4 linked regions of the Homo sapiens genome follow. The protein of the gene in region 3 purifies or fractionates together with the protein of the main gene of each other region. This does not show direct contact. Each region holds a gene or a part of one and is shown on either strand. Other genes may lie near its edges.

Region 1 (8,439 bases), on a different chromosome or scaffold from region 3:
TCCTCCCCTGCCCTGCATCCGGCTAGCCCCAACTTACCCATCCAGCCCCAAATCCCTCCTCGTCCTACCTAATTCTCTGGCCATTAGATACACTGAACCAGGAAGACAGCCCCTTCTTCACTCCCCACTCTCCACCCATTCCCTTGTACATGCTCTTCTCTCCAGTCCAGCGCATCCTTGAAGGCTTGAATACAATTTGTCCCCTTATCTGTGAGGTGTTTCCTGTACCCATCCCACCTCTGAGTTGAATGTATCCCTCCTCCTGCAGCTTTGCATACACTGTATTTCTACAATAGCACTATCACAGTGCTTCATACAGTAGCACCCCCCATCCGCTAAAGATACATTCATACAGGAGTCCCCTCAATCCTCAGGAGATGCATTCCAAAACCCCCAGTGGATGTCTGAAACCTGTTTCTCCTACACATACACACTTGTAATAAAGTTTATAAAGTAGGCACAGAAATAGATTAACAATAATAACACAACAGAATAACAATATACCGTAATAAAAGTTATATGCATGTGGTCTCTCTCTCTCTCAAACTATCTTGTACTGTACTTACCCTTCTTGTGATGAAGGAACAGTGGGAGGGCAAGAGATTTCATCATGCTACTCAGAACAATGCACATCTAAAACTTATGAATTGTTTACTTCTGGAATTTTCTGTTTACTGTCTTTGGGCTGAGGTTGACCATGGGTAACGGAAACCACGGAAAACTAAGCTATGGATAAGTGGCTGTAATTGATATTTTTATCTGTCTTCTCTCCCACCAGAATGTGAACCCAAAGGTCATGCCTCACTGACCTTTTTATCTCCAATATCTGGCACAAAGTAGGGGGTCTGCAAATGTTTGTGAAATGAATGACCTCCTCTAATTCCAGAGCCCTGCCATCTCCATTCTTCCCCCTTTCACTACACACCCCCCTTTCCCACATTAAAATTCTGCTTCAGCAGCAGGCTTCCAGGGCTCTCTTTAGATTAGACATTCTTGCCCACACACATTACCTAGATATCTCTTGGCCTCCCTCCACACACACACAATTTTGGGGGGAAGAACAAAATTCCATTTCTATAAAGCTGGCAAAATCTAATTCATCCTGATGCCAGCCAATTTATGTTTTTGTCTTCTCAAACCAATTTCCCATTCTCTGTGTCTTTTCTATTCTGATCCTGGGGGGGTCCAAGTCTGAAGTCATTCCAAGAAGCCTCAATACAGACCATGGACTCTCTTCGGGGGTTTGCAGTGTCTTCTGTGGTGGTCACACACAATCTGAGTCCAACCTGTTACTCCCCTGCAGGAAGTGATATCTAAGAAGTCACCCACTGCCTTAGGCCTTCAGTCTCCTTACCTCTTAACAAGGGGAAAATATTTTGCCAAGTTTACCAGGCTATTTGAGGTTGAGGCAAGGTCACATAAGTACGAGTGTCTCATTAGCAAAAAGCTCTATAAAAATACTATGAAAGAGCACAGGAGCCAATGTGAAAAGAGCTCCCAACAGCCAAAGCCACAGTAATTTGAGCAACAAAATTAAGTAGTATTGGATTATAAACCAAAGTATAAAATAAATGTCCCTGAGTCTACACTGAAATTAATGATTGAATAAATTAATAAATTGGGGGAAGAGAGAAACAAATCTTCCATGCAGAATAACTGCAAACAATAATATGTAGATACTTGCCCTCAAGAAGGGGGAATATAACTCTTGGCTCCCTAGGTATGGGCTGCACTTAGTGACTTCCTTCTAAAGAGGACAATACACGCAAAGAGTGGAAAAGAGACTAACTGTACAGTGGAGAAACCTGAAAAACACTATCTCACCCAAATCAATATTAAGTCATAAATCATGTTAGTACATGCCCTTGATACGATGGGATGATAATGGCAATCTACCTCTGTGGTCTTCCTCCCAGTTACCCATAAGCCCAGTCTTAGGAGAAAAACATCAAATTCCAATAGAGGGGCATCCTACAACATACACGACCAGTATTCTTCAATGCTGTCAAGGTCATCAAAACAAGTCTGAGAAACTCCCACAGCCAAGAGGAGCATAAGGAGACATGACAACTAAATGTAATGTGGTAACCTCCATGGGATCATGAAACAGAAAAAGTACTGAGGTAAAAACTAAGGAAATCTGAACACACTATGGACTTTGGTCAATAATAATGTATTGATATTGGTTAACTGCAACAAATGTACCACACTGAGGTAAGATGTTAATAACAGGGGATCCGGTTTGGAGCATGTGGGAAGTTTGTACTATCTTCTCAATTCTTCTGTAAATCTAAAAGTGTTGTAAGAAATAAAGTCTACTTAAACAATAAAATTGCAATTTTTGAAACATAAAAAGCCTATTTTTTTTAAAGGTGATTTTTTTGAACTTGGGGAAAAACATGTTAGGGATTATGATTTCAGCTAAGAGTTAAAAACAGGAGGTTAAGGCATGCATAAACGAATGTCATTCTCCCCTCTTTTGAAGTACACACAAATCGTGGGTCAAAATTTGAAATCTACTGGAGATTTGGAAGTGTGTCCCTCCCATTTACTCCACAGAGTTAAATTTACACTTTTTTTCTAAGGCCAAATAGGGAGAAAATCAGTAAGAAAAATGCTAATGAGCTGGAAGGAGTGAAAGCACAGCTCCAAGTATTTGTGGCTAAACCGGTTTACTCCGAACAAAAAAAAAAAAAAAAAAAAGAAAGAGAAAGAAAGCATGACACTTTGGTCAGGGAGCTGGATTAGTCGCCTATCTACCAGGCTCCAAGCAACCGGACGGTCATCCAGGCCCCGCTTACTTCTGGTTCCGCAGACTAGAATGGATGGGAGTCTGAGTAGGATACCAGAAAGCGAGAAAGACCCAAGAGGAGGGGGAGAATGTAAGGACAAGCAAACAGGAGGGATCTGGCTGGCAGGGAGGACGCAGCGAACTTGACCCCCTCCTGAGCCCGCCCGGGGGCCTGGCCCCGTTTTGAACCCGGGCCCGGCGGCTGCGTTGGGTCGCCCCAAACCCGGTGAGCGTACGAGACTGTTGCTTCGCTGTATGTCTCATGTGCACCCCCTACTCACCGGTCCCGAGCTCCGGGCCGCGAATCCCGGCCGGCACCCCTCCTCTCTCACGGCGGTCTGTTCCGGGTCCCGCTCCTGCACGAGCAACCAGCGCGACAGCTCGTCCCCGCCCCGTAATCTCCCGGCTATTCGGGGCCCTTCGCCGAGATTTCTCCCGGACCAGCCCCGGGATTGGCTCCTGCCGAACTTCGCCATCCAATGGGAACCTTAGTCTCTTTTACGTCACTGATCACCGGGCAAATCCCCAGACAGCCGCGGGCGGTGGGGCACCAGGGGCAGCGAAATGGAAACTGAAATCAGGCGGGACCGAGGCTGCGCCAAGAGCCGCAGCCTGAGTTTGGCGCGTAATTGGGGTGGCCTGTTACACGGTCTAAGGGAGTAAATGCTAAGGCTTAGGAGTCACCTACGTAGGACTCTTGAGAGGGCAATAATCCCCTTTCCACCTCTCGAGACCCCTCACTGCCCAACTCTGGCCTTATGCTGGATCAGGGTCCGAGGGCGCTTTGAGGCGAAGGTGGCGCTCGCCAGGTGCTCAACATCAAATACGAAGTCCCCGCCCCTAACGTGGCCTAAATTTGCTTCCAGGACAAAGCAGGATTTTAGCAAGCAAATACTCTCAGAGACCTATTTACGAAAATTATTACTTCCTAGGTAAAATAACGTTCAACCAGACAGCCATTGTCGCCATTCGACGGAAGGAAAAACTGAGGTTCCAGGAGCTTAAGGGTCTGGGCCCAGTTCAGGGGGGTTGTTTTCGCTCCTCGACGCTGAATTTAGAAACCAGAGGCTACAAAGCGGGCCGAGACTTGGGTTCCCCAGGTCCTTGGTGGGGAGGTTTCCAGGAGGCTCGGGCGCGCCCCCGTCCACGGCCCCGGAAGCTGACGTCGCCGAAGCGTACGCCGCTGCCCAGCCTGCGCTCTCTTCCTGCTCTGCCTGCAGCCGCCGCGTCCGGTCCAGCCGCAGGGCCATGCCCTGTGCTGCGGTTGCCGTGTCCCAGGCGCCGCCGCGTCAAGATCCCCGTCTTTCCCGGCCAGCCAGGCGGCAGCGGCATTCAGCTCGTGCACTGGGCTGGCAGCAGGCTGAGAAGAGGCGGCGCAGGTTCTCCGGGTCAGCCAGTGCCCTGCTCCTAAGGGTAGAGATCTAGCTGGGGACACTGGTCGTCCGCCTAGGCAGTGGTGAGAGGGTGGGCTACAGTTGTTTGGGTATTCATGAATGGAGGAGCTCAGGGTCCTAGACCCTAAAACCTGCTGAATCTTCACCCCTCCTCCGCTGGGGGTAGGGAAATTTGCACTGCATTTAAGCAATGTATAGTGGAGTGGGTGGGACATTCAGAAGAAACCACGCCCACATTTAACACCCGCGTCCTTCCCTTCTACCCCAGCCCAGCATTTTGTCTTTTTCCCCTTTGTCCAGCAGTATAACTCACGCTGCCCCTCCGGGCTGAGAGGAGTGTAGACCTCACCTGCTGAGCACAACTCTGGCGGGCCTGTGCTCTGGAGGTGGTCTCAGCACCTACCTAGACCCTCTTGATACCTGCTTTTTTAGTTGGTGGTGTGGGAAGAAAGTGTGTTTAACATGCTCCTTAAATAATGCTCTGCCGCCGAGCGCGGTGGCTCACGCCTGTAATCTCAGCACTTTGGGAGGCCGAGGTGGGCGGATCACGAGGTCAAGAGATCGAGACCATCCTGGCCAACATGGTGAAACCCCGTCTCTACTAAAAATACAAAAATTAGCCGGGCGTGGTGGCGCGCACCTGTAGTCCCAGCTACTCAGGAGGCTGAGGCAAGAGAATCGCTTGAACCCGGGAGGCGGAGGTTGCAGTGAGCCGAGATCGCCCCACTGCACTCCAGCCTGGGGACGGAGCGAGACTCCGTCTCAAAAAATAATAATAAAATAAAAAATAATGCTGTGCCACTAAGCGTTTTCTCCCTGTCCTGAGGTCTTTGGCCTATTCACAGACCATTCTGGGCAGACTCCAGCCACAAATCCACCACCCCACTTAAAATTCTCTATCCTCTCAGCACACTTAGAGGGGCATGGAAGACTCTTGCAGGGGCTGGGGCTCCTGACATGACAGCTCTGCTTAACTCTCTGACCTCCCTCATGCCACTTCTCCCTCGGTCCCTGTGCTTTCACCTTACACCTGGTCTTGAAACTCCCTGCCCCAGCCCCTTGCATGGCTGCCCGCTTCTTGTCAGTCATGTCTACATCTCAGAAAGGTCTTCCTCCCTCACCCAGTTGAAACCAGTTCCCCATCATGCATTATTCTGTTTCCCTTTCTTCATGCATTTGTTGCCATTTGAAAGCACCTTGTTCATTTCTTTGTCAATGTGTTTATTTTCGATCTTCCTCCCCCTCAGTGTACGCCCCAAGAGAGTTGAGACAACACCTGTCTTCCATGCACATGGCTTCCATGTAAATAAATGTTTGTTAAATGAAATGAGCTCAGTGTGGGCATTTCTTTTTCTTTTTGTAAAAAAATTTTATTATTATTACACTTTAAGTTTTAGGGTACATGTTCACAACGTGCAGGTTTGTTATCATTTAGCATTAGGTATATCTCTCCTAAAGCTATCCCTCCCCCCTCCCCCCACCCCACAACAGCCCCTGGTGTGTGATGTTCCCCTTCTTGTGTCCATGTGTTCTCATTGTTCAATTCCCCAGTGTGGGCATTTCTAAAGCTGCCTGGCCCTGCTTGGCTGGGTATCAGTCATGCACTGAGTCCCTCTCCCACCACACTACATCTTGATTGATACAGCTTCTCAAGTCCAAGTAAGGGTAACAGAAATGGATGCTGGGAACACAATTTCTGCTTTGTGTTGGAGGAGACAGCTTTGGAGCAGCTTTGTAGCTTTGTGCCCCTCTACAGCTTCCTGCTTCATTTAAGGTTCTGAAGCAGAGTTGAAATTCCTTCCTCCAGCTCTCCATTTCTGTGGTCATACCAGATGGAGGCCAAGGCAGCATATGGGGCTGGGTAAGAGTTCTGCGTTGAATTCTCCAGTCTGCCACATTCTGTGAGGCTTTGGGGCAGCTGCTCAACCTCTGTGTGCCACAGGTTCTTCTTCTGTAACATGGAAGTAGCTAGATCTGCTTCGTACGGTTATTATGAGGCTTAAATGTAAAGCTTTGAAATAGTGAATCAGTGCTGACTAGGCCAAAGGGTATGGTATAATTATTTGCATTTGAAATAAATATCTTAAATGGAGCAAGAAGATTTAGTAGGTATATTCCTTGAGCAGCTCTGGTTTAACCTCAGGAGGAACTAAAGGCCGCTGTCTAAAAATGAGTTTGTATATGACAGGGTACAGGAAATGCCACCCCAAAATATGGCACCTTGGAAATTGAGAAAATAGCAGAAACAGGAAGGTTTCTCTGACCTCTTGCTCCTTTCTGCCCTGAAGCAGGCCATAGAAACTAGAGTTCCCCTCGCCCCTTCTTCCCTGAAGCAGGCCACAAAATCTAGGAAGGTCACTCTCTGACCTGCTCCCTCCTTCTCCCTCCTTCATCTGAGGCCCCTTATATAACAGGCATCCTCTCCTATGCCCTGAGGGAGGGACTGCCACACAGGTATGCCAAGAAGAAACTGAATAGACAGGCCTTTCCAACTTCTCAGTTTATCACCGTTAGCTCATACACTTTTGTCCTTGCAATCATACATCTGCCTGACTGTCTATACAACTACACAAATGTCCCCATTTCTTTGGGTTTTCGTTTCTGAAAGTTCCCATGTCATGTAAAACTTGGATAAAATAAATGTGCATGCTTTTCTCTTGTTAGTCTGTTTTTTGTTATTGAAGTCTCAGCATAAACCTTGTGATGGGTAAGGAAAATATATTAGTTTTTTTCCCCTAAGTTTAGTATAAACATATTGAGCTAAATCATACCATTCAGAATCTCAGGATTTTAAGAATACTAGAGTGCTTGGAAAGAGGCCTCCAAACAAAAAACAAACAAACAAACAAACAAAAACTTGAAAACATGAAACTCCCATTGGTAAAGATGCAAAGAATCTGTTTGAATCTTTTGTGTGAAGGATACCTTGGTATTAGGGCCAGAATGAATAAATGAATATCTGTAAAGGAAAAGGTAAAAGTTACATCAATGAAACAATTTTAAGCCAACATTTCTGTTTTCTGGTAGAGGCATAAGCTAATAAATAATTTTGTGCTACTAAAATCTGCCTGCTTTTGTGCTAAGAACTGGCTGCAGGATAAAAAATAACAGGTTTAACTGTCCTTTTTAAAAGGAAAAAAAGGCATTTTGAATGCTAATAGCATTAACTACTGGGTTTTGAACAGAAAGCGTAGGCTGAACCAATCTCTTATATGACTTGGGATGTCATTTAAAATACTTTGTATTCCAAATTTGGTGACTTTTAAATGTCTATTAGCTCAAAAGTTAGTGAAAATATATTGTATAATATATAATGACAAATTCAACTTAAAAAAAATTTTTTTTTTTTTTTTGAAACAGGGTCTCACTCTGTCACCCAGGCTAGAGTGCAATGGTGCAATCATGGCTCACTACAGCCTCGACCTCCTGAGCTAATGCAATTCTCCCACCTCAGCCTCCTGAGTAGCTGGGACAGATGTGTGCCACCATGCCCGGCTAATTTTTGTATTTTTTGTACAGACAAGGTCTGGCCATGTTGCCCAGGCTGGTCTCAAACTTCTGGACCCAAGCAATCCTCCTGCCTTGGCCTCCCAAAGTGCTGGGATTACAGGCTTGATACAACGCGCCCGGCCGACACTGTAGCATTTTCTAATAGGCCTACGTAAAAATTATCTAATTCTCTAGGGTAGTTTAACTTTGATTTAGTATTTTAGGGTATTTAGAGTACTCCTTAGGGGTAGACATTAACTTGTAGAAAAGTGATATCAATGGAAATGATTCTTGGTCAATAGCAATGTCAATGAATTTTGTTCAGTGGAGGTATAGAAGATGTATGTCCAGTGTATGTATATTCAATCTTCCAAATTCTCTTTGAACTAGTTCTTTTTTTACTAGTCTCTTGTTAGTACATCTTTGATACATGCTCACTTTTTCTTTGTATAGGATACTGTCATTGACTTTTAAAAATTATATTTTGGCAATACATTGCATTTTATTATTATGTCTCTTAATCTTATTATAACAATCTACCCTTCCCTTATTTTCATTCCATTAATTTGCTGGAGAAGCCAGTTCATTTATCCCATAGAATGTTCCCAGTACTGGATTTGGTTGATTGCTTCCTCATGGTATCAATTAACTTGTTCCTCTATTTCCTGTGTATCTTAGATAAGATTCATAAGATAATAAAGGATGCTATGTAGTCATCTCTCATTCTAAGCAATCAAACATTTTCAATATCTTTCACCATATGTC
Region 2 (7,520 bases), on a different chromosome or scaffold from region 3:
TCATCAAAAATTAAGAACTTCTATTTGAAAGCTGTTAAGAGAATGAAAAGATAAGCCACAAACTGGAAGCAAATATTTGTGAGTCACATCACTGAAAAAGGATTTGTATCCAGAATATATAAAGCCCTCAAACTCTACAATAAGGAAACAAGTAACCCAATTTTTTTAAATGGGCTTACAATTTGGACACTTCACCAAAGATTTACAGATGACAGATGGTAAACAAACACATGAAAAGATGCTCAATATCATTAGCCACTGGGAAAATGTAAATGAAAAACAATGAGATACCACTATATCCCCTCCCCAAGGAGGGAATGCCTAAGGGAAAAAAATGAAATAAAAACTAAAAATACCAACTGCATATGTGGATGTGCAACATATGGAGTTCTCGTATATTTCCTTGGAAATGCAAAATGATACTGCCTTTTTGGAAAACAGTTTGGTGGTTTCTTATGAAATCAAACATACACTTATCACATGGCTTAGCAATCCTACTTCTAGGTATTTTCTCAAGGAAAATGAAAACATATGTTCACACAAAAACATGTGCACAAATGTTTGTAATGACTTGATTTGTAATAAACAAACTTGAAAATAACTCAAATGTTCCTCAACAGGAGAATAGATAAACAAACTGCATTATATCCTTACAATGGAATACTACTCAACAGTCACAAGAAACAAACCACTGATACACATAACAAGATGGATACAATTTGAATGCCTATGTTAAATCAAACAAGCCAGATTCAAGATGCTACAACCTATGATTTCCACATAACCTTTCAAAAAAGGCAAAACTATAGAGACAGTGGTTGACAAGTGTTAAGTATGGGGAAGTAGTTGACACTAGAGGGTGCAATGGTAAAATTTGTGGGGGAAATAAAAGTATTCTATATTGTGATTGTTGTTCGTTACACTACTGTATGTGCTTATCAAAAGAGAACTGTACACTAAATATGGTGAATTGTATTCAATGTAAATTATATCTTATTTTTAAAGTGTATATGTAAATTTTTATAATTTTGTGTATTAAATTTTATAAATTTTTAATATAATTTTTAAAATGTGAGTTTAAAAAAGCCAAATTCTGAAAAGCAGCATAGCCATTTAATATGTGAAACTCTAATCATAGCAGGCTAATACTTGGTGTCGTAAACAACGTTGAAATATACAAAGGAGAAAGGATATTAAATGTTTTATTAAAGTTACCGTTTATTCGTGTCTAACTAGAAAAGATCAATTCCAGTTTTCTCCACACATTGGATATGATTGTTCTTTTCTATTCCACTTCCTTGTAGAAAGCACTGAGAACTTCGGATGACAGACTATTTGGACCTTTCCATGGAGATTCTGATTCAGCAGGTCTGGGTCGGGCCTGGCAGTTGGGTTTTTACATAGTTCCCCAGATGGCTCTGCTGTACAGTGAGCACCACCCATATGGTACAGCTTGATGCTAGAGGGTAGAAAGTCACACATGGTCCAGCCCAGCTCACTAGGGCAAAAGTCAAGATAAAGTTTCAGGGCTTAGGCCAGAGCTCAAAATAGCTCCTTTACTGGATAGAGCTATTCTGTTAGCTAATCACACAGAAAAAGAAAAGGGTGGGGAGAAGGAAAGGGAAAGAAAAAAGGAAGGGTGAGGAAAAGGGACGAATGCTGTCAGTGTCCGTGGTTTCATATACAATATTAACAGCATATTCCAGGGTGGTCAGAGTTATCCCCAGATCACTAATGAGAAAACTCTCACCTGAGGCTTGGAGAGATTTTTATAAGCACAATAATATACATATACATATTAAGAAATAGCCAGGCCTGGCGTGGTGGCTCACGCCTGTAATCTCAGCACTGTGGGAGGCCGAGGCGGGCAGATCACGAGGTCAGGAGATTGAGACCATCCTGGCTAACATGGTGAAACCCCGTCTCTACTAAAAAATACAAAAAAAATTAGCCAGGCGTGGTGGGACACACCTGTAGTCCCAGCTACTCGGGAGGCTGAGGCAGGAGAATGACATGAACCCGGGAGGTGGAGCTTGCAGTGAGCTGAGATTGTGCCACTGCACTCCGCCCTGGGCAACAGAGCAAGACTCCGTCTCAAAAAAAAAAAAAAAAAGAAAAGAAATATCCACCAGGGAAACGGTACAATCACATTATTCTGTTCCATTCTCACCTATCCTCACAAGCATTATTGCCAAGTAACTCTTATTTTCCACTGGAAATACATTGAATTTGTTAGTTCAAAAACGTCTTTCCCAAAGCACTTTCCTTATACTTACTTTGAAAAGAAAGCTCTCAGCATGATAATGGATGGTATGTATGTCCACTTCACTTCCTATCCCTAACAAATACCAGTTTGTCATTGTATCTTCGTTCATTATGAGGCCATGGAGATTCCCAAAAATCTTTCCATTAATGGCTTTAAAAGGTGATAAGAAAATAACCTTTGGTTAGTTAAAAGATAAGCTGATTTTTTAAATGTTTCCAGAAGATCTTTAGGTCACTGATATTTTCATCTGTCTAGTAAACATGCAACAATCTCACTCACCCCTAGCAGTGTCCTACCATTCTAGACCCAAAATTCAGATAACTGAGAAATCCTTCTACAAAGAGAGCGAGAACAGAGAAATAGCAGTTTTAAAGCCGTATCTTGGTGGCAGTGTTTTGTTTGTTTATTCAGCATAATCTCTTTATGAAGGGAAATACAGTCTCATTGGAGAGGTAGTCAGATTTATACCACTCTACAGAGAACAAATCAAGGCATAAACAAGTTTATGTAAATAAAAATTGAGTGACTTAGAAGGTATTTTCTTAATATTTCACTTGTTGAGAATAGTTTAAGCCTGGCTGAATCTCCAAAAATAAAAGAGAGCTTCACACGGGCTGAGCTCATGACCTAACAATGACCAAAGCAAACTGAGTTTACATGATGGTGACTCCCACTCCTCCACTGTCTACTGACTTTTGATTCTGTGCATTGTGGTGCAACCAAATGACCTGCATTCATTAAAAATGGAGAGCATACTAAGACATCTTTAGGAGAAGAAAGCAAAACTGGTAGGGGAAAGAGTAGCTGAATGGGGAATCAGGCTACTATATTCTAATCTATATTAACAAGTAGCTTTGTGACCTTGGGCAAGGCCTTTTTGTGCACTTTTGGTCAAAAATAGCTGTTGGTGAGAAACTGTGGATGTGTCAATGTGAACACATTACTCCCACCAACAAACTACCTTAAATTATGTAGAAGTAACACAGATACATTAAAACAGAAATTTGATGGTAGTGTTTCATATCCCAGAGACAATTAAACCTGGCCCTTAAATTTAAACAAATAGAAGTTATGGCATATTCTTATAAAAATATGACAATAAATGATGATTTGTTTTTAAAGAATTACTTTACAGTCTTAGAGCTTAGAGATCCCAGGATTCAGAAATACATGTCCCTACAAGTTAGTACAAAGCCTCAATGACTTTGCTGCCAGCCAATCAGTGGCTAGGCTGGTTCAGTCTGAAGGAAAGCATTAGAGGACTTTCTTCAGTCCAGGTGCCCCTGGGAAGGAGGAAAGGCTCAGAGAAGGATGCTGGGAGCCTCCTACATTTACAGGAATTCCTATGAGCTTATCTCAACATAGGCTTCTTTTTAAACTTTGGATATACCATGCATTCTGTTGCTTTCCTCAAAATCATCAGTGCGCTTAAAATCTCGTGGATCTTTGTTGAGATACTTCTTAATATTGTCATCCAGATACCAGGATTCATTCTCATTAAATACCAAAAACAAGAGAGCAAATTCATAATCAACGTCACTTCTTCTTCCCTTTTCATTCAAGACTCCTTTTCGGCATGTAATCAGAGGACCCATCAAACCACTATACGTATCCTGGAAGAAAAAATAAACTGAGTTAAAAGAGCCATTAAGTAATTTAATAATATTTCATTCCACCTGCCACCATTCTAGTGTAGGGTCATAATACCTCACCCTGGACTAGAAATTGATTCTTCTCTCAGCTCTGATTCACCCCACCTCCAGCCCATCCTGTTGACCACCATCACAGTAATCTTTATACTCCCGTATCTAGAAGTCTTCAGTGATTTTCCGTGGCCTACAGAATTAAATACAAACCCTTGCAGGTCTGTGAGCCCTCCATGTGCTCCCCTAATGAAATTTTCTGACTTAGGCTACCCCTTGATTTACTACTGGACCCCATATGATAGCCAAATGGGACTCTCAACATGTCCCAAACACTCCCTCTACTTCCCTATTTTCAGCTGTGCTCATAATGCTCTTTCTTCCTAGACTCTCCCTCCAAAACCTTCTATAGTACTTTAGTTAGCCTGCCACTCCTATAGAATTCACCAGATTCAGAGCTCTATTACAGTTACAAGTGTGGACATATTATTTTCCCACAAAGTTATAAGTTTCTTTAAGACAAGAGTATCTGCATCTCTCATAGTATTTGGTGGGGTCATTTGCACATCACAAGTGCTCAATAAGTATTTGTTGTGATGCATAAATAAATTTGGATTTTCCCATAATTCTCATATGTAAGTTTATTTATTCAAGTGCCTTGTATTTCTATCTCCTGAACTCTAGAACTGTCCAGTATAACTCAAAGACATTAATACAAGCCATCTAATACCTAAGAGGAAGGTTATGATAATCCCTCCCTTTTTTTCTTTAATAGGCAATGCTTACATTTTACATCAAATAACGACTTTAGATTGGACTTTGGTTTATGGCATGTAATTAAAGACTGTGGTTGTTTTACATACACATACCTGGCTCAAATTCAATGTTGAATCTTTGCCTTTTATTTCAAAGTTAGATCATTAATCATTCAAACAATTTTGTAGTTTCAGTTACTATGTTTAGAGTGAACTTTCTTCTCCTGAGCCCTAGTAGCCCTGATAATAATGCATTTAAAATAAACAGATTTCACACATCCAAAACCATACATAAATTGTACTCTAAGTTATATTTATTTTATTGTTGTATATTTACATATCCTCTTTTGCTTCAAACCTTTTATCTTTTTAAGTTCTAAATTTGGTAATTGAAACATTGGGATTTTGTTTTTATTCCCCATACTTTAAGTCAAGGGTCACCAAACTTTTTTTTTTTTTTTTTTTTTTTGGGAAAAAAAAAATCACCAGATAGTAAATATTTTTGACTTTGTGGGCCATATAGTCTCTGTTGCAGCTACTCAAGTCAACCATTGACAATGTAAACGTCCAGCATGTCTAGATTTCGTAAATGGGCCATAGTATGAGACCCTTGCTCTAAATCATTATACGCTTTCACATATACCAACCCAAATTGTGATGACCCAAGTAGTCAACTTTCATCCAAATTATTTTAAGCCTTTTGGTTGCTTTCTCCACCTTACCTTCACAAAGTTTACTGTTGAATAGTAAACCCATGGAATACAATTGGGATCAGAAGGCCCTGGACCGGATCTTTTAGGGATATTCCATCTATAAGTTTTTACTTCTCCTGTAATAAATGAAATGGAAAAAATTTATTAGAATTATCTGTGTTTCAGATGATTTATCTGAAGAAATATAAGCAGGTCTTTATATATTTTCATTAATGTTTATTGCTGGAGAGAATTACTCATTCATTACAAATGTTCTTATTAAACTCCCATCTTGATTTCTACTATTTCAAAATGAAATGGCAGATTTGTCATTTCAGGCTCCAGCCTTCCCTCTAGTTTGCATTTTTCTATTGTCAACTGGTGTGTATTCAGGAAATAAAAACATTTTATACCTCACTGTTTTTCCTCCTTAAATGTTTTATCTCCTTCCCAAGAGCTGTCCTTGAGCACATCTTTGTCATCAAGGACCTCTGCTTTGGCCTCTTATGGGAGTCACCAGGGAGCTTTGTAAGCCCTTGCTGCTCAGGCCTCACCCCAGACAGTGAAATCAGAGAGTCTAGGGTCTAGGACTCTGGTGCCAGTGTTTTTTAAAAGCTTCTCAAGTGGGCAGGTGAGATCTGGTGAGAACCAGAATCAGAGAGACCTAGTTCCAAATCTCAACCCTATGACTTCCTATTTATCCCACATTTGACCAGCTACCTAATGTCACTAACCTTTAGTATCCTTATCTGTAAAGTGGGTTGGTCATCATAGTTTTCTAATTGTTGTGAGGATTAAATGAAATAATGTCATTAAATACACAGGATAATGCTTCATTTTGAAGGCAGTTAATGTGTTAATTTTTATGTTTACTACAGTAGTCCCCCTTTGTCCAGGAGAGATACATTCCAAGACCCCCAGGGGATGCTTGAAACCACAGACAGTGCCATACCTATATATACTATGTGTTTTCCTATACAGACATACCTATAATTAATTTATAAATTAGGCACAGTAAGAGATTGACAATAATTACTAATAATAAAATATGACAATTATAACAGTACACTATAATAAAAGCTATGTGAATGTAGACTCTCACTCTCAAAATATCTTTTTATTGTCTCTAATTGAAGTTATCTCAAAATTTCTTAATATTTTCAGACCAAGATTGATTCAGGTAACTAAAACTAAGGAAAGCAAAACCGTGATAAGGGGGAGCTACTGTAAGAACAGCTATGGAGACAGTAAAAAGATCAGTGGTTGCCAGGGGTTAAGGAAGAGGAAAAAATAAACACCAGAGCACGGAGAATTTTTAGGGCAGTGAAACTATTCTTTATAGGACTAAAATGGTGGATACATGTTGTTGTGCATTTGTCAAAACCCTTAGAGTATACACACCAATACTGAACCCTAATGTAAATTATGGGCTTTAGGGGATAATGATGTATCAATGTAGGTTCATCAATTACAACAAATGTACTACTCTGGTGGGGGATGTTGACAATGGGGTCCCTAATGGAGGTTTCTAATGGAACCCTAGAAATTCCTAAACATTTGGTCATTGGATGAATGATGATCTCATACCAGAGTGACTAGATGATGGCTGAAACACATTGACATTAAGATGAGCTCTTTAAGACACCTCTGAGACCAGAAAAGAGTTGACGCCAATGTTCTTCTTCAAGATGGAGCAGACCTCTGACACAACTTACCTGGTTTTGTCATGGGCACTTGGAATTGCTTTCCACTATCCATCTCCTCCACACCCTGGGCTGAGATGGAGTAGGGCCTACTGGCTTTGTTCTTAAATATGATCAGGACGGTGTTGCCCACCTCAGCATGAATCATTGGGCCTAAAGGCAAAACACAGGCCTGTGTGCATTATTATTGCTCTTTCAACATTAGTGTAATTTAAATATAGGCAGTAGTTAGTCAAATAAAATAGTTTGGCTTTAGTTGTTTTTCCGAGAAAGGCATATATAACTCTACTCCACTTTAGAGAGCAACATTGTGTAGTATTAAATATCATGTAGTCTTTAGCAATGGGTTTAAATTCTGCTTCCTTCATTTATTAGAGGGGCCTTGGGTAAGTGATGTAATCTGTCTGAGTTTCAGTTTCCTCATCTGTAACATCAGTTTAGTAATAACTTTTATGTGGGAT
Region 3 (7,520 bases):
CAAGACCAGCCTGGCCAACATGGTGAAACCCCGTCTCTACTAAAAATACAAAAGTTAGCCAGGCATGGTGGTGGGTGCCTGTAATCCATAATCCAAGCTACTCAGGAGGCTGAGGCAACAGAATTGCTTGAACCCGGGAGGTGCAGTCTGCAGTGAGCAGATATCATGCCACTGCACTCCAGCCTGAGTGACAAGAGCAAAACTCCACCTCGATAAAAATAAATACAAAAACAAATATTTTAATTATAGAAAACATGTATTTGTGTACCTCTTGTGTAATTTAGATATTTAAATTCCTGGGGCTGTTAATTGCTTTCTTCTTGAGAGAACATGAGTGTCCTCAGATTGATAAGCATAGAATGAAGGAAAAAATATATACAAAGACATATAGTGAAACTGAAGAACATAAAAAACAAATAAATACTCCATAAGCCTCCGAGAATGAAGGCTTTAGATCACCTGCAAAGATCCAAAAATTAGATTGAAACTGATTCTCAACAACAAATCTACTTGAAAGAGGAGAATGGAATCATTTTTATATAATGCTGGCCCAAAGTCCCATATAAATTGCTAAACAAAAAGTTTAGAAATGGGAAGTTTTGATTTGTTTTGTGAGTATGACAACACGATTTATTTGCAAAATGAAACCAGATGTGAGCTTACAGAAGGCTATGTATGATTTTTATTTATTCCACTTAAACACAAATATTCATATGTTTTGATGCTGAAATATTAGTGCTTTTGCTTTTGTAGTAATGACACTGATAACACTGGGGTTTCTAGAAAAATGTGCATTAAGTAATCTTTATAAACCTCCAAGTTCTGATTTTCAAAACATACCGAGCCCCCCAGGTACAAAAGAAATGCTCTCATCTTGTCTTGAAGGAAAAAATAATTTTAAAACTAGAATTTCAATCTAAACAAAGTGATATTTAAACATAAGATCCTCAAAAACTATTCTCTGAACCTGAAGGCCTCAGTAGTTTTTCCAGACAAAGATGCACACAGAAACATTTTTGGAAGTACTTTTCAATAGAAAATTAAAAAAAAATTTTAAAAAGCTGCAGGCCAAAAGACAAGTAAGAATGAAAAACGAACTTGATTATGTGTGCCTATGACTTAAAAAGAAAGCCCTGATCAAAGAAAAGAGAAACAGAAAGTATACCAACATGGTGGAGGGAGGGAAGAAAAAGAATATGAGTTTACTAATGTAATTGTCTTAAAGGGTGAGATGGAAATATAAGTTTTAAAAACAGACAAGTAGGAGAATATAGAAGTGTTATAAATTGAAGTGAAGATAGCAGAAGCAGGCCAAAATATGTTAATTATTAGCCTATACATAAAGAGGTTAACTAGTTAAATGACAACTTTTATCAAATTTGATTTAAAATTTCTATATGTATGTTGTCAGTAAAAGATCACTGAAAGATGAAAAAAAATTTAAATTATCATGCAAGGAGAAACTAGAAGAAAGCCAGCTTATCTATGCTAGAATCATTTTTAAAAGATCTTAAGACAAAGAGTATTATCAGATACCACATGGTAAAAGGTTGAATTCCTGGGAAGATACAATAATTTAAATTATAGATTTATCTAATAATAATAAATGTATATTATTTTTCATTATTGTATAGTCCTTCATGATAATATAATGTTATATAATATATTTATCTTCATATACACACATATGTACACGGTGCCACAAATATATATATTTATATGTGTATGTTTATGTTTGGAAACATGTATGCATGATCACATACACACATAATATACATTATACAACTATGCATGTGAGCATATCTATATATTATATATATGAATTTGAGAGGAGTACAAGAAAATACCGTCTTATAATAGGAGGTTCTATATTATATCTTCCAATACTAAATGAACAAGGTAAAAAAACATTTTTACAAATTTGAGCAACATAATTGATAGCAATATTTATCTAACATATATAAATCCTGAAATCAACATTTAAAATCTCATATTCTAGTCAAGTACACTGAGATATTGCACCAGGCTATACAGAAAGTCTTCTAAAAATTCTGAACTTTGACAATATAAATCTATTTCAAATTGACTTCCATGCCTCTCCCCTATACATTGCCACTAGAAAAATAAAACATCATTAACTTTCAGGAGGGCAGGAAGTAATCTTAAAATGAATAAAAAACTGCCTTTCACATCTGGTATAGAATGATGCTAATGTAAAAGTTAAACATACTTATGAAAATATTGACACATTTGAATTATTTGAATTATTTGAATAATTGTGTTTGCAAAATGGATACATTTTCTACTATGTGTTTGCACTTGTAGAATAATATTATTTACAAAATGTTCTCACATATGTTTTTGTGTGAGAACATGTTTTGTAAAATTGAGATACCGTAAAATACAGCTGTATGTCTAGATGTGTTTTTTACTTAATATTATTTCCTGATACTTTGTGCACATCATTATCTTGTCTTATTTTATCTTCTACTTTCATTTTAGGTTCAGAGGGTACATGTGCAGGCTTGTTAAATGAGTAAACTGTGTGTCGCTGAGGCTTGTTGTCTGGTGATCCCATCACCAAGGTAGCGACATAGTACCAGATAGATAGCCTTCCAACCCACATACTGCTCCCACCTTTCCTCTCAAGCAGTCCCCAGCGTCTACCGTTCCCATCTTGTGCCCATATGGATTCAATGTTTAACTTCCACTTATAAGTGAGAACATGCAGTATTTGGTATTCCTGTGTTAGTTCACTTAGGGTAATGTTCTCTAGCCGTATCCATGTTATGCATATACAGCGTGGAATACTATGCATCCATAAAAAAGAATGAAATCATTATCTTGTCTTTTGCCCAGACCCCAATGGCCACCAAGCTTTCTAACCTCAGAGAATATATACTCAGAGAATTTGTTTTAAAATCTGCAATGGTCAAAATGCATATTCCTTCATTCATGCCCCAGTTGTAGAATAAAGGATATCTACTATCTTTGAAGTAAGTAAAGAATTGGAAGTATTAACTGCAGTTTTCACTTTTCTGAATATAGTTGATACCAGCCCTACTGCCCTCACCCCACTGCCCTGAAGAACCAATATCGATTTTTCCCTTGTGATTTTGTGGCTTTCAAGGAAGCATCTAGATCTTTTCTATAAAAAATACCCACAGTACTCACCTTACTGGGAATTTCTTCAACAGTAGTCCAGATCTTGAGATCTTCAGAAATGTAGGAAATGAGGATTGTTTTGAATAGGGAAATCAGTCAGTAAAGCTCTCAGAAACTGAAATACAGGATGTTATAATCTCCTGAAATGCTAAGAAAATGAAGTATTTTCAAAGACAACAAGGGAAAATGGCCCTTCTTAGAGTCACTTGACTAGTGCTGGCTTCCTCATACTCTGCTTTGCCCTGGGGAGAGAGAAGTTGTGAAACAACGTGCAGACTCCTCCCACCCATATTTTTTGCTTTCCATCCTGTTAGAGAAAATGAACAGTTTCTTTCCTGTAGGTATCTTAATCAAAGTAAAATTTGTATCAAAGTTATATTTAAAATTTTTTTTCTTACAAATGTTGATATCTGAATGGAGTTCCAATCTTAGAACTTTCTTAACCAGCAGACTTACATGTGGGACATTAGGGACCTCTATTCCGATGAATGATTGTCAAATATGAGAGAAGCAAGGTGGTTTCTTCTCCCTCCTTTCCTGTGCGGTTGCAGGGGGAGATCTTGGTAGGAGCATCTATTGCTACCAGTACTTTACTGCATCTCCTGCATGGGAGAATGTCTGCTATGAAATAGCAGTTGGTTTAAATACTACCTGAAGCATTCACCCAGTTATTAATAGTTGACAAACCTAGGGCTTTCCAGATCAGAAAGTTATTATGAATATATAAATCCTTTCTCAAATATATATAAAGGAGTTTAACACTAGCTGTCCTCTTGACTATGACTAGGTTATTTTACCTCAATGATTACATTCATGATTCCTCAGGTTTCCTTCATTATTCATGGAAAAACACAAGTGGATAGTGGGCTCACAACATGACAGCATCGAAGCCTTGAAAATCCTGGAAAATGCACTGAACTTCTGGTAGACCGAGAGTCCTGTTAAACCCTTTGCTCAGCAGTATTTTTTCTGTTAAGGGCAGTGGGTGTCCTTCAGAGTACTAAAACCCCAAGATGTCAAATAAACGACACCAACTGGCAGATGATGTTGTGTTAACCCAGCAGCAGATCTGCAAGCAGGATGTGGCCATGAGTGGAAAATGGGGCCCGAAATACAGCTGTAGGGGAGAAAACAAGTTTTTTTTAAATTTCCCTTTTTAGGTTATTAGTTGACACTCTCCTGAAAACAAACGTCAAATTAACAAAAGAAAAACAAGCAGTTTATTAATGTGTGCTCTACTCATCACAAGGGATAGGCCTCAGTTCAAAAGTATTTCTCTCTCCAGGCTGTGGCTTAGAAACCTTGTTTAAATAGTATTTCAATAAAGAGCCATACGTTCTATATAGTGAAAAGCAAAGGAGAAAGCAGTTCCAGTCATTTAAAAGGTGGGAAAACGTGGGAAGGTAGTAAAATCTGTTCCCAGATTCCTCAGGTTCCTGGTGGCGCCTTCTCCGGGCTGAAAAGCAAGTGCTTTCTCCAGTAAATACGGATTTATGTCCTGCCATCAGGCAAATAGTGCCTGAGGCAGCATGTTCCCCTCCATTTTCTGTCTTTAACTTAACAGTCCTAAGTATTTTGAGAAGTATTTTTGGTTTCCTTCACAAATAATACAAATGATCTGAGGCCATCTACAGAACAGAAGAAAGCTGATCGCCTTAGTACAAACTAGGGTCATGGAGAGGATAGTTGATGTCTGGATTTGGAGCCATATGATAATTTTATCAAAGCAAAAGTAAGTTAAGAAAAAGCAAGGAGGATCTGGAAGGATGGCCACAAAAATACCTTCGAGTGTTCATGGTTTTCTTTTATAGGTTTACGTTGCTGTTAATGTAGAGACACTAAGTTGGTCTTAAGATAGTAGGTAGAGAGGGATATTAGGAAGGTCAGGTTACCCCAATTCAAAGGTCAGAGAGTAGAGGAAACTTGGTAGAAATTACCATGTTTCAGGACATTTTTGTTTCCCCTTTTTGGTAATCATTTCATGTAGAGTAATGCCTTTGGTTAGGACTCCAGCATACAACATACAAATTACTGTCACCAATGAAGACAATTCAGAACATTGCTCCATAATCCATACTGTGCAGATAAAATTGTAATAGATGAAGCAAAGAAATGCTTTAAAAATGTGCATTTGTGCTGATTCTGAAGCAGTGGGCAATAATTTGCAATTTGTGCCATCACACAGAAAGCTCACTAATAGAACATACGAGAGCTCCTGATAAGGGGGTAAAAGTCTTGGATGGACCTTCATGACTTTTTATCATCTGAAGTACTAATTCCGATGCTCATTCAAAGTCCTCAGGAAAAGTTCCCACCCGATTAATGTTCTAACCAAGATGTTAGTAAATTACTGCCTGTGGGACAATACTAACACACCATCCACTTTTGTAAGTAAAATTTTATTGAAACACAACTGTGATTACTCACTTATGCATTGTCAATATCTACTTCATGGTGCAATGAAGAGTTGACTAGCAACAGAGTCCATCCGGCTGCAGAGTGTAAAGATTTTGCTGTATGGCTTATTATAGAAAACGTTTGTCAATCTGTACCCAGTCGTCAGTCTAGGAGACGGCAGAAAGCCTCTAAGGAGAAAAGCAAAAATAATTACTTATTTTTATTTTTGCTTTGTTAAATCAAAAGCAATGTTAAATCAAGTTTAGCCTAAAGCTGCCTTCTTACATATTCTAAGTTCAGCCTAAAGGTTTCTCATACAGCGTGAATGATGGCCTAAATGGAAGTGTAAACAGACTGTAGTATATGCTTGTGTCAATCACCAAGTTTTGGCCAATCAAATGTGGCCAACTTGTTCAAACCGCGTTCAAATAAGGCAAACTCCGAGCTATAACCAATCCAGCTCTTTATCTCATGTCCATTTTCTGTATCTCACTTTTCTTTTTCTCTTCATAAATCTTCCACTATGTGGCTGTGCTGGAGTCTCTGAGCCTACTCTGGCTTGGGAGGCTGCCTGAATAACATTCACTGCTCAGTTAAACTCTTTTAAATTTAAGTCAGCTGAAGCTTTTCTCTTACACAATCACACCAAGAAACCACGTTTGGGACTTTTAAAGTCCATTGTAAACCCCTGGATAAAGCCTTGTAATAATTATTGTGATCTCAGAGAGGAAAATGGAAATGGAGAGTGTTAAAACCTTTCTCTAATTATCCCTAAGAGTCAGAACAAAACCCATTTGTTGAGAGCCTCAGTTAGCAAGATTGCTTTATGCATTCATGGCCATCAGCCACCTCAATCAGGTGCCTTCTCCTTTTGTCTCTCAAGTAAATAGATTTCTCTTTCTCAAGGAAGAGGGAAAGGTGATTGAGTTTTAAATGTTGAACCAATCTTATATCCCTGAGATAAAACACTTTTAATGATGCATTATAATTTATCATATTGATAAGTATATTGGTAAGTATAATTTTTCAATATTTTAAAAGTGTTTTTGCATTTATTTTCATGTGAGAGTTGGTTTTTGTTTAGTTTCTGTCATATTGATAAGTATATTGGTAAGTATAATTTTTCAATATTTTAAAAGTGTTTTTGCATTTATTTTCATGTGAGAGTTGGTTTTTGTTTAGTTTCTGTCATATTGATAAGTATATTGGTAAGTATAATTTTTCAATATTTTAAAAGTGTTTTTGCATTTATTTTCATGTGAGAGTTGGTTTTTGTTTAGTTTCTGTGTAATATCTTTAATTTTGGTGTGACAGCAAACTGGCATTTCTAAAACAGATTGTATAGACATGGTAAACTTTTATCCTCAAATGTCTGATGGAATTCATAAAGTGTCTATTCCCAAAACTTTCACTACGGAAAGATTTTTGTTACAACTTCTCTTTCTCTAATAGATATAAAAATATTTAGTTGTTTTATTTCCTTACAAGACAGTTTTGGTAAGTTGTGTTTCACAGGATTTTTTTTGTAATACATTTTTGTTTTACAGGAATTACGTAAGTAAACTTATTTGCATAATATTTTTCATAATTTTTTATTACCATTTTAATATCTGTAGTGCCATCCCTTTACATTCCTGATACTGGCCATTTATATTATCCTCCCTTATTTTTCTTGATTACTCTTGGTAGACTCTCTGAGGAGGATGCTCAGGGAAGTTCAAAGGCAAGAGGAGAGACAAAAAGGACAGTAAAGGATTCTGAAGCCTTTGGCACCGACATTTAGGACAAAAAGTAAATAACGTTTTAACAACTAGCCAGACTAACAAAAAATCTCATACTAAAGGTCTGTTTATTTCAGTTCCTATTACCTGATCATATATGTCTTCCTTTTGACAAAAAAAAAAAAGAAAGAAAGAAAAAGCAAGTTATGCTAAAGACAAGGAAAAACAGAGTCTCAA
Region 4 (8,520 bases), on a different chromosome or scaffold from region 3:
GGATGGTCTCAATCTCCTGACCTCTTGATCCGCCTGCCTCGGCCTCCCAAAGTGCAGGGATTACAGGTGTGAGCCACCGTGCCCAGCCCAAAAATTTTTACAGGTGAAATGTTTTTATCTCCCTCCCTTCCTCTCACTCTTTCCCTCTCTCTTCCCTTTTTCCTCTCACTCTCTTACTGTTCGTTCCTCTCACTAGAAGATAAATTTCATTAGGTCAGATACTAGATGTTTTTCTCTGCTATATCCTCCTCAGCACCTGGAACAATGCTTGGCACAAAGTAGACATTTAATAAACATTTGCTGAATGGAAGAATGGATAGTTGGATGGATGAAGGAATGAGACAGAAAGGGATTGTTTAAATTATCTGGATCAAGTGTCCTTATATTGACAGGTTCAGTATCCTTTCACTGGGAGGCAGTCTTTGCCAGGCTCACTGTGTGGCCCACAGACCACAGGCATCAAAGTTACCCAGGAAGCTTATTAAAAATGCTTATCACTGGGCCGGGCGTGGTGGCTCACACCTATAATCCCAGCACTTTGGGAGGCCAAGGCGGACGGATCACGAGGTCAGGAGATCAAGACCATCCTGGGTAACACAGTGAAACCCTGTCTCTACTAAAAATACAAAAAAATTAGCTGGGCATGATGGTGGGCGCCTGTAGTCCCAGCTACTTGGGAGGCTGAGGCAGAAGAATGGTATGAACCCAGGAGGCAGAGCTTGCAGTGAGCTGAGATCGCACCACTGCACTCTCCAGCCTGGGCGACAGAGCAAGACTCTGTCTCAAAAAAAAAAAAAAAAAAAAAGGCTTATCACTGGGCTTTTCACACCAGATCTACTGCACCAAAATCTTGCAGTATAAGGCGAAAGAAGCTGCCTTTTACCCAGCATTCCCAGTTGACTCTTACACATGTTTATGAACCACTGCTTTAAGGGAACTGGAATATGACCATGGACCCTACGCTGCCTGTGTAGGCCTTATAAACACACAAGCCCTTTTTAAATTAAGAGTCACCTTTCAGCTATACACAGCTAATATGGTAGCTCATAATTAATCTACTGGCTATTTAACTCTGCTCTCACCTGGCAATCTAAAAAGAGTAAAAATTTAAAACTATGTTGCCCTGTTTTGACCATAAGTAACTGGAAATTACTTTCGGGTAGCCTTGTTTTTCCAAATTTAGAATTAAACATTTTAGAAACACTTTCCTTTCAGTCACCATTCTATAATTAAAGACAACTTGAACATTGCTCATAATGGCTTTTCATTTTGCTTAGGTCAGAGTTTTCACATTCTCTTATTCAAGATCCCTTACCAACTTACCAACCTATCTTTCCAGCCTTCCCCCCAGAAACCCCCTCGTCTGTCCAGACCACACTGACCCAAAGACTTTTCATTCATTTCTGCCTCTGCTTTTTTACTGAAATCTTTCTTCCCATCCAGCAGGCTCTTCCTTTTTCTTATTAAATCACCAAGCATCCTTCAATTGACATGTCCCCCCCAAAAGCCTTTCACATCTGAGCATTCTAGTTGGATGTGAGCTCTTCCTCCCAAACCTTTCCCAGACTAGTGCTTTTTTCCCACCTATACACATTGAACTCTCATCCACTGCTTGGCATTGATAATTGTCTCTTCATGTGTTTTGCTTCCAAGGCACTGTTCCATATACCTCTCGGTAAGGTATCCAGCCTGATAGGTGCATTGTCAGACAGGAAGTAAGCAGATCAATAAATATTAGATTATTTGAAATTCCCATAGATCCTGTTTTTCACCTGCTTAGCAAGCAGAACACACTGTTAATTATAGAAATAATAGTTGATTAATGGCCAAGCTGGTCAGAATGAGAGCCCACTCTTCCATTACAGGTAATCATTGCTCTTTCTGATTCATGATTGTGCTGGAGGTTTTTGTGGACACCCTGTGAACAATGCTAAATCTCAGCCAGTGACTTACCAATGAGGGCAATTAGTCCCCAAAACACCACGGAGGATAACATGGCGGGGAATCTTATCTTCCAGGACCTGCTCTGATTTGAAATAGAAACTGGTTAATTTTAAAACCTGAAAATTTCCTAAAGAAAAATTTGCTTTGATATTTTAAAAAGTTTAGAGTTATTTCCAATTCACTACTCATTTCCCTGTTTCAAGATAGTATTCTCACAGGCTCAGTACATAGTTTGTTGGCACACTCTCTTTCTTAAGCATAAACTCCTAATCTCACTTCAATCCAATTTCATATTGACATGAGTCATGCGTATCTTACATATGTAACTAAATATACACTCCCATCCCACCTCTAAGCTTGGTAACACCACAATTTTGTTCCCTTTCTTTTTAAAAAAAAAAATACTGATCTTTTCATTCTAGTTATTCACCCTACCCCTGGCTTCAAGGATCAGTTTTGGTCTTTCATTCATTTATTTAGAAATGGGATCTTGCTCTGTCACCCAGGCTGGAGTGCAGTGGCATAATCATAGCTCACTATGGCCTCAAACTCCTGGGCTCAAGCGATCCTCCCACCTCAGCCTCCTGAGTAGCTGGGGCGACATATGCGTGCCACCATGCCTGGGTGTTTCCATTCTTATACCAGGGTCTCCGTAGGGAAAACAAAATAAAACAAAATACCAACAGGAGCATGAGAACGTGACTTAGAAGAGGTTTCCTCTGCTCCATTTCTTCCTCAATCAACTCTATTCTTGGTTTCATTCAAATGGTAGCTTATAAGTTTTACAAGACATAAGAAGGCCAGCACTAACCTTGTTTGCAACCTTACAGAGAAAATCTCCCCTCTCTGTTTGCAAAGGTCTTCTGTACTCAGCAGCAAACTGCACTTCAAGCTTTTACAAAGCGACGGCCTTTGTCCTGTAACATAGGCTTAACAATTGGAGAATCCATTAGTCAGTAGATCACTGCGCACCTGGCTTCAACAGAGTAGACATCAGCGTGGCTCTACTGCTGTGGAGGAAACTTTTAAACACCAGCATGAAGACTCACCTGGCTTTTCTTACCTTCGTCCTGTACCAATGATCATTAGAGGAGCTTTATATATGGTTTAAAACCCTCTCTTTAAACCATTGACCTCATTAGGCCTGGTTATAATAGTACTTAGGACTTAGGTGACCCAATTAATAAGAGGATTTCAAAGGGCTTATTAACCACTATTAATTAATTAACCTAATGAACCCCCAAGTTGCTCAGGAGGCATATTTTGATAGATTGTTTCTAGATATCTAAAATTGTGCCAAACAGCTTCTAAATTTGCGAATAAGAAACAGATAATTCACTTTAAAAGGATAACAGGAAATACTAGCAATTTTTATTCTTGGATTGGTTATTTACCTGAAATATTGGGTCTCCTGCTTTTTGTTCCCATTCCAATGTCATATGATCCCCGTACCAGTATGTCACATGATCTCAAACCACTATGTCACATGATCATGATAGGTGAACTTGGCTCCTTACTCCAATCCCACTTCTGAGAAAAAGGTGCAAGTGTGGCCACCTGCTCTAGGAGATCAATGCAAAACCAGGGAGTAGCAACGTGAGTGCTCATTTGCCCATACTTGCTAAGGATATGGGAAAAAAGATTATAGCCAGGGATGAAAACTTCTTCAAGAAGAGAGTATCTTTCTTCAGGCTTATGTCCAAAGGAAGAGAGGAAGCATATTGTGCAGCCCCAGGAACAGGAAATGGAAGGGACGTTCTTGAAACAGGCAAAGCACATTGCGCTGAGGGGAGGAAGAAGTCTGGTCTGGGTCCTTCCACAAGCGTGTCCAGTTTCTCAGACTGCACACAGTCCTCCCCCACATCCACTGAGTGAAGAAAGGTGGAAGGCAGCTGTACAGGGAACAGGAAGACAAAACCACAGGCAACTTCCCAGCTCCCTGGCAATAAAACCACCTCCACTCCCAGGAGAACATGCCCTCCCCAAGCTGAGGTCTGCACAGTCCACTGGCATTCACTTCTGCCCTGCCTGCCTTCCTGCTTGTAGAACAGACGTCTCTGGCATGGCCTCTAGCCTTCCATCCCTGGAAGAGTGGCAGGGCTGTTCTGAGCCAATGGATGATTCCTACCTGACTCTCAGGAAAGTGACCCATGGAGGGTCTGCTCCACCACCATCAACACTGCAGTCAGGACCACTCTTGAATAAGGGATATTGCAGGAGTCTAACTGCCCTGAGGCAGGCCTTAGAAACCCATAGTCTATGACCCAGCGACATTGTGCCCGTGACCCACTTCACTGCAGGGTGAGTAGAGCCACTTACCTGAGGCTTCCAGGCTAAGTGCAATGAGAAAGCTCAAGAAAGGGAGATTAAGAAGTTACGAATGATAAGTTAGGTAAAAGAGAGTAGGTGGAGGCTGGGGCTCTCCCTACATGCACTGGAAGAAGACATTGTTAATAAAACATTTAAAGCACTGTTGAATGTGAAGAATACTTATCCTTCTGCTCTCAGTTAGTGGGGCTACGAGTCCTTCTAGGTATGAGGTCCTTAATGTCCAGGCTTCTGCAACTCAACCAAAATTGTTTTCAAACTGATGTGGATTGTTCTGTTCACTCAAGCTGTGAGAGAACAATTGAACATTTATTTGACACCCAACATTAGTCAGGTTCCTATGGATATTATATGACTCAATCCTCCACTGGCCCTGTGAGGCAGGTATTATCCCTTATTTTAGAGATGAGGAAACTGTGACTCAGAGAAGCTAAGTAACTTGTCAAAGATGGCACAGTTAGCATGTGACAGAGCCAGGATTTGAATCTAGGCCTGTAAGATTCCAAAATCCATGCTCTTCCACTGTATCGAAGTGCCAGCACGATGGACAAATGCCTCTGCAGAGCAATCATTGCAACAGGTCCAAATCAATCTGGATACAAAGCATTGTCCGTGGTCTGGAAAAATAACACCACTCACAGATTTTTATACCACTATCTGTCAAATGTTTGTAGGTGCTGTTGTAATTTCTAAAATGCAAATTAATATAAGTTAACTAAGTCCAAAGTGGTTTTTTGTCACTTTATATTTTCTCCACCAGTAATAATAATGTAGTTAATACGCACTGACCTTGTATGGTATGACTGGTAGAATAATAGGAAGGGGCATAACCTAAGTTTGTTACATTCTGAAGCCTAACTCTTAACTGCAGTACCCTACTGACCCAGTGGATGGTTAAGTGTGGGTACTATTGTATAATGACCTTAGAAATTTCTTGTCACTAAGAAGAAATGTACTGAATAATTCTCCATCTCTTCCCAGGGATACCAAGAATGACTACATGTAAGTTGTACTGTTATTTCCAGGAGGGGCTTGAAGGGAACTTGGCACCTGTCATAATCTCTATCAGTCCCCAAAATAAAAACACAATCTATATGCAAGCAATTTCTGTGCTATACAAATAAAACTCTATGGCCTGGTCCCCTACCCCTCAAATCAGTTGCCTGCTCCTAAGACTCTTCAGTGCAGCAATTCTCTGGCAGCTTCTGGGGAGTCCTAACAGATTTGGGGTTCCTGGCTTCAGTGGTGGAGACTCCAATCATCCCTAACGACTAAATGGCCTCAGCAATTGGAAAACTTCAATGGGAAAGTTTAAGCAGTACTGTCCTAGTTAGGAGGAGAGGAATGATTATGAAAACTGAGGTACTCTGTATAGCCAGGGAAGTAGATTCTGGTAGGAGTTCCTGGCAAGACTTCTCAATTCATACCACACAAAGACCTGCCCTTGTGCCCTGAGCTACCCTAGGTTAGCACTTTTGGGAGTTAAAGGAATCCAGCACCTCAGGCTCCCTTGGTCCCCTCGCCCTCTGCGTCCCCACCTGCCTCCCTCCCAACACTAGTCTGTGCTAATAGAGACTGGGTTGTCTCCGCCATGTCATTATTTGTGAATCCCAGGCACAGCTTTCCCTTCTCAGGAACAACAGCCAAGGAGGATGACCATAGCCAACTCATTTAACCTCCCTGAGCCTTAATTTTCCTCATCTGTAAAATGGAGATGATAATAATGCCCCATGACTTTGTTTTGAAGACAAAAATAAATTTTATATGTAAAAACATGTTATAAACTACAGTGCTTCATAGAGATGCCAGTTACTATCATGATGGGTTTGCACTCAAGTCCTGATGGCTTAGCTTCTTGTTGATTTATTCATTTGTTTGTTTATCCATGCACTCAGGAAAAATAAACAGCTGAATTATAGGACAGGAAGTAGGAGGTGAAGTCTCTCTCCAGCCATGAAGAAAACTTGGCAGGACAAGCAAGAGCTATTCATTGTCAGGACTCTGTAGCCTGCCTGGTAGGAGTGGAGGAAGGATAAGTTCAGAAACAGCCACACAAGCAGCTGCAGCCCAAGCATCTGTTTCACAGCTCTGAAACCTATAAAATGGGGGAGCTGCCCAAGAATATGTGGCAAAGGTACTTTGGCGCCAATGGCTGGTAAGAAGGCAGAAGGGGAGCCCTTCCATAAAATTTCACTAAAACATTCAACTTAACCCCAGGATATATCAATGTCAAGCTTTAACTGCTGTGTGCTTTTCTTGTCTTGGTTTTAATCTACTATATGATAGGTAAAATGCAGGGTATGCCCTGTTGAAGAAGCCACTTATATGGTTGCATTATTGGTCTTCCAATGTCAAACATTTGACCAACATTTCAGGAAAGAAGATATACAAATGGCCAATAAAGCTCATGAAAAATTGGTAAACATCTTTACACATCAGGGAAATGCAAAATAAAACCAAAATGAGACAGTATTTCACACTCTCTAAAAAGGCTAAAACCAAAGACTAGCTATATCACATATTGGTGAGAATATGAAACAAAACAGAACTCTCATACATTGCTGGTTGGAGTATAAAATGGTATGATTGCTTTGTAGTACTGTTCAGCAGTTTCTAACAAAGTAAATAACTATATGCCTCAGGAATTTTATTTCTAGTTATTTACCCAAGAGCAATGAAAAAAAAAAAAATGTCTCCCAAAAGACTTGTATGAGAATCTTCACAGATTGTAAGTTCTGCAAAGAGAAAAGAAAAAAAAAGAATTTTTACAGTGCTTTATTCATAATAGCTCAAAACTGGAAACACTCCAAAAAATTCATCAACAGAAGAATGGACTAACAGTTGTAGTATAACGATATAATGGAAAAATACACAAGTTAAAAAAAAAATCCAGGAAAAAATTCCAATGAACCTGGGCTGGGTCAGGTGCCCACCTCTGGATCATTCAACCATGTCTAGGAATATATTTGTTTGAAAAAGGGACTCCCTGTGGTTTGGAAAGGAGAAGGGAGAAGTCTGAAACAAAATTTTAAAGTAACGTTTTCATTTTGAAATAGTTTAAATTTCACAAGAAGCTTCAAAAATAGTACCAAGAGTTCTCATGTACCCTTCACCCAGCTTCCCCCAATGGCAATGTCTTACATAACTATAGTACATGTCAAATCCAGAACATTACCATTAGTATTATACAATACTGTAAACTTAGGTACAGACCTTATTTGGATTTCCCCAGTTTGTTTTTACACGCTCTTTTAAAAAAAATATTTATTTATATTTCAGAAGCGTATAGTACTGTGAACGTTTATCCCACAGGTAGATGCAAGTAACCATCACCATAATCAGGATACAGAACTGACCCATCACCATAAAAAGACTGCCTCATGATATCCCCTAACTATGTCTTTCATTGTGCCAAAAGTAAACTTTTTTTTTTTTTTTTTTTTGATGGAGACTCACTGTTGTCAGCCTGGGCTGGAGGGCAGTGGCATGATCTCGGATCACTGCAACTTCCACCTTCCAGGTTCCAGCAATTCTCCTGCCTCAACCTCCTGAGTAGCTGAGATTACAGGTGCCCACCACCACACCTGGCTAATTTTTGTATTTTTTAGTAGAGATGGGGTTTCACCATGTTGGCCAGGCTGGTCTCAAACTCCTGGCCTCAGGTGATCCATCTGCCTCAGCCTGCCAAAGTGCTGGGACTACAGGCATGAGCCACCGTGCCCGGCCAAGTAAGCTATTTTTTAAAAACAGCTTGATTTGAGGTATAATTCACATATCATAGCCTTCACTCATTTAAAGTGTGCAATTCAATGGTTTTTAGTATGTTGATAAGAGTTTTGCAACCATCAGCATAATCAATTTTAGAGTATTTTCATTATCCATGGAAGAATCTCCACAACCATTAGCAGTCATTCCCAGTTTCTCTCCCCTCCCTCTTCTCTCCTGTTCACCCTCTGACCCCAGGCAGTCACTTACCTAGAAGTCTGGATGATTTTGTAAAAAACTGCTCTATAGTTGTTCACTATACCTGTGATGGAGAGAAGAGCTGGAGCAGTATCTGGAGAAGGACTTGTGTCAAAGACAGTCCTTTTGTCATGGTTTAACCTGGGAGTGACTTGAATATAATCAAATGCTGTAGAAAATGAGGATACAAAAAACAATAGGATTATTTGGTCAGGTAATGATGTTGAAGACGCTAGTTCAAAAGCTTAAGCATAGAAATTGGCCTGAGGCAGGAATGGGACTGCC

Evidence for each region.
Region 1: the proteins of PYHIN1 (region 3) and TRIM26 purify together in Homo sapiens (affinity purification with mass spectrometry; 4 studies listed by BioGRID and IntAct, with this or other methods). This does not show direct contact.
Region 2: the proteins of PYHIN1 (region 3) and HEPHL1 purify together in Homo sapiens (affinity purification with mass spectrometry; 3 studies listed by BioGRID and IntAct, with this or other methods). This does not show direct contact.
Region 4: the proteins of PYHIN1 (region 3) and LYG2 purify together in Homo sapiens (affinity purification with mass spectrometry; 3 studies listed by BioGRID and IntAct, with this or other methods). This does not show direct contact.

What each region holds. Positions count from the first base shown.
Region 1 is NC_000006.12:30,210,233-30,218,671, forward strand, and holds the start of TRIM26 (tripartite motif-containing protein 26), read right to left. Parts: upstream 3,175-8,439; 5' UTR 3,073-3,174; intron 1-3,072.
Region 2 is NC_000011.10:94,100,887-94,108,406, reverse strand, and holds part of HEPHL1 (ferroxidase HEPHL1 precursor), read right to left. Parts: intron 7,213-7,520; coding exon 7,072-7,212; intron 5,494-7,071; coding exon 5,387-5,493; intron 3,880-5,386; coding exon 3,657-3,879; intron 2,417-3,656; coding exon 2,277-2,416; intron 1-2,276. UniProt on the Homo sapiens protein: Is a copper-binding glycoprotein with ferroxidase activity. It oxidizes Fe(2+) to Fe(3+) without releasing radical oxygen species. May be involved in the regulation of intracellular iron content.
Region 3 is NC_000001.11:158,927,431-158,934,950, reverse strand, and holds the start of PYHIN1 (pyrin and HIN domain-containing protein 1 isoform alpha 1), read right to left. Parts: upstream 3,400-7,520; 5' UTR 3,175-3,399; intron 1-3,174. UniProt on the Homo sapiens protein: Major mediator of the tumor suppressor activity of IFN in breast cancer cells. Promotes ubiquitination and subsequent degradation of MDM2, which leads to p53/TP53 stabilization.
Region 4 is NC_000002.12:99,252,265-99,260,784, forward strand, and holds the start of LYG2 (lysozyme g-like protein 2 precursor), read right to left. Parts: upstream 3,403-8,520; 5' UTR 3,339-3,402; intron 2,874-3,338; 5' UTR 2,756-2,873; intron 2,027-2,755; exon of another isoform or gene 2,022-2,026; 5' UTR 1,997-2,021; coding exon 1,954-1,996; intron 1-1,953. UniProt on the Homo sapiens protein: May act as a potent antibacterial protein that may play a role in the innate immunity.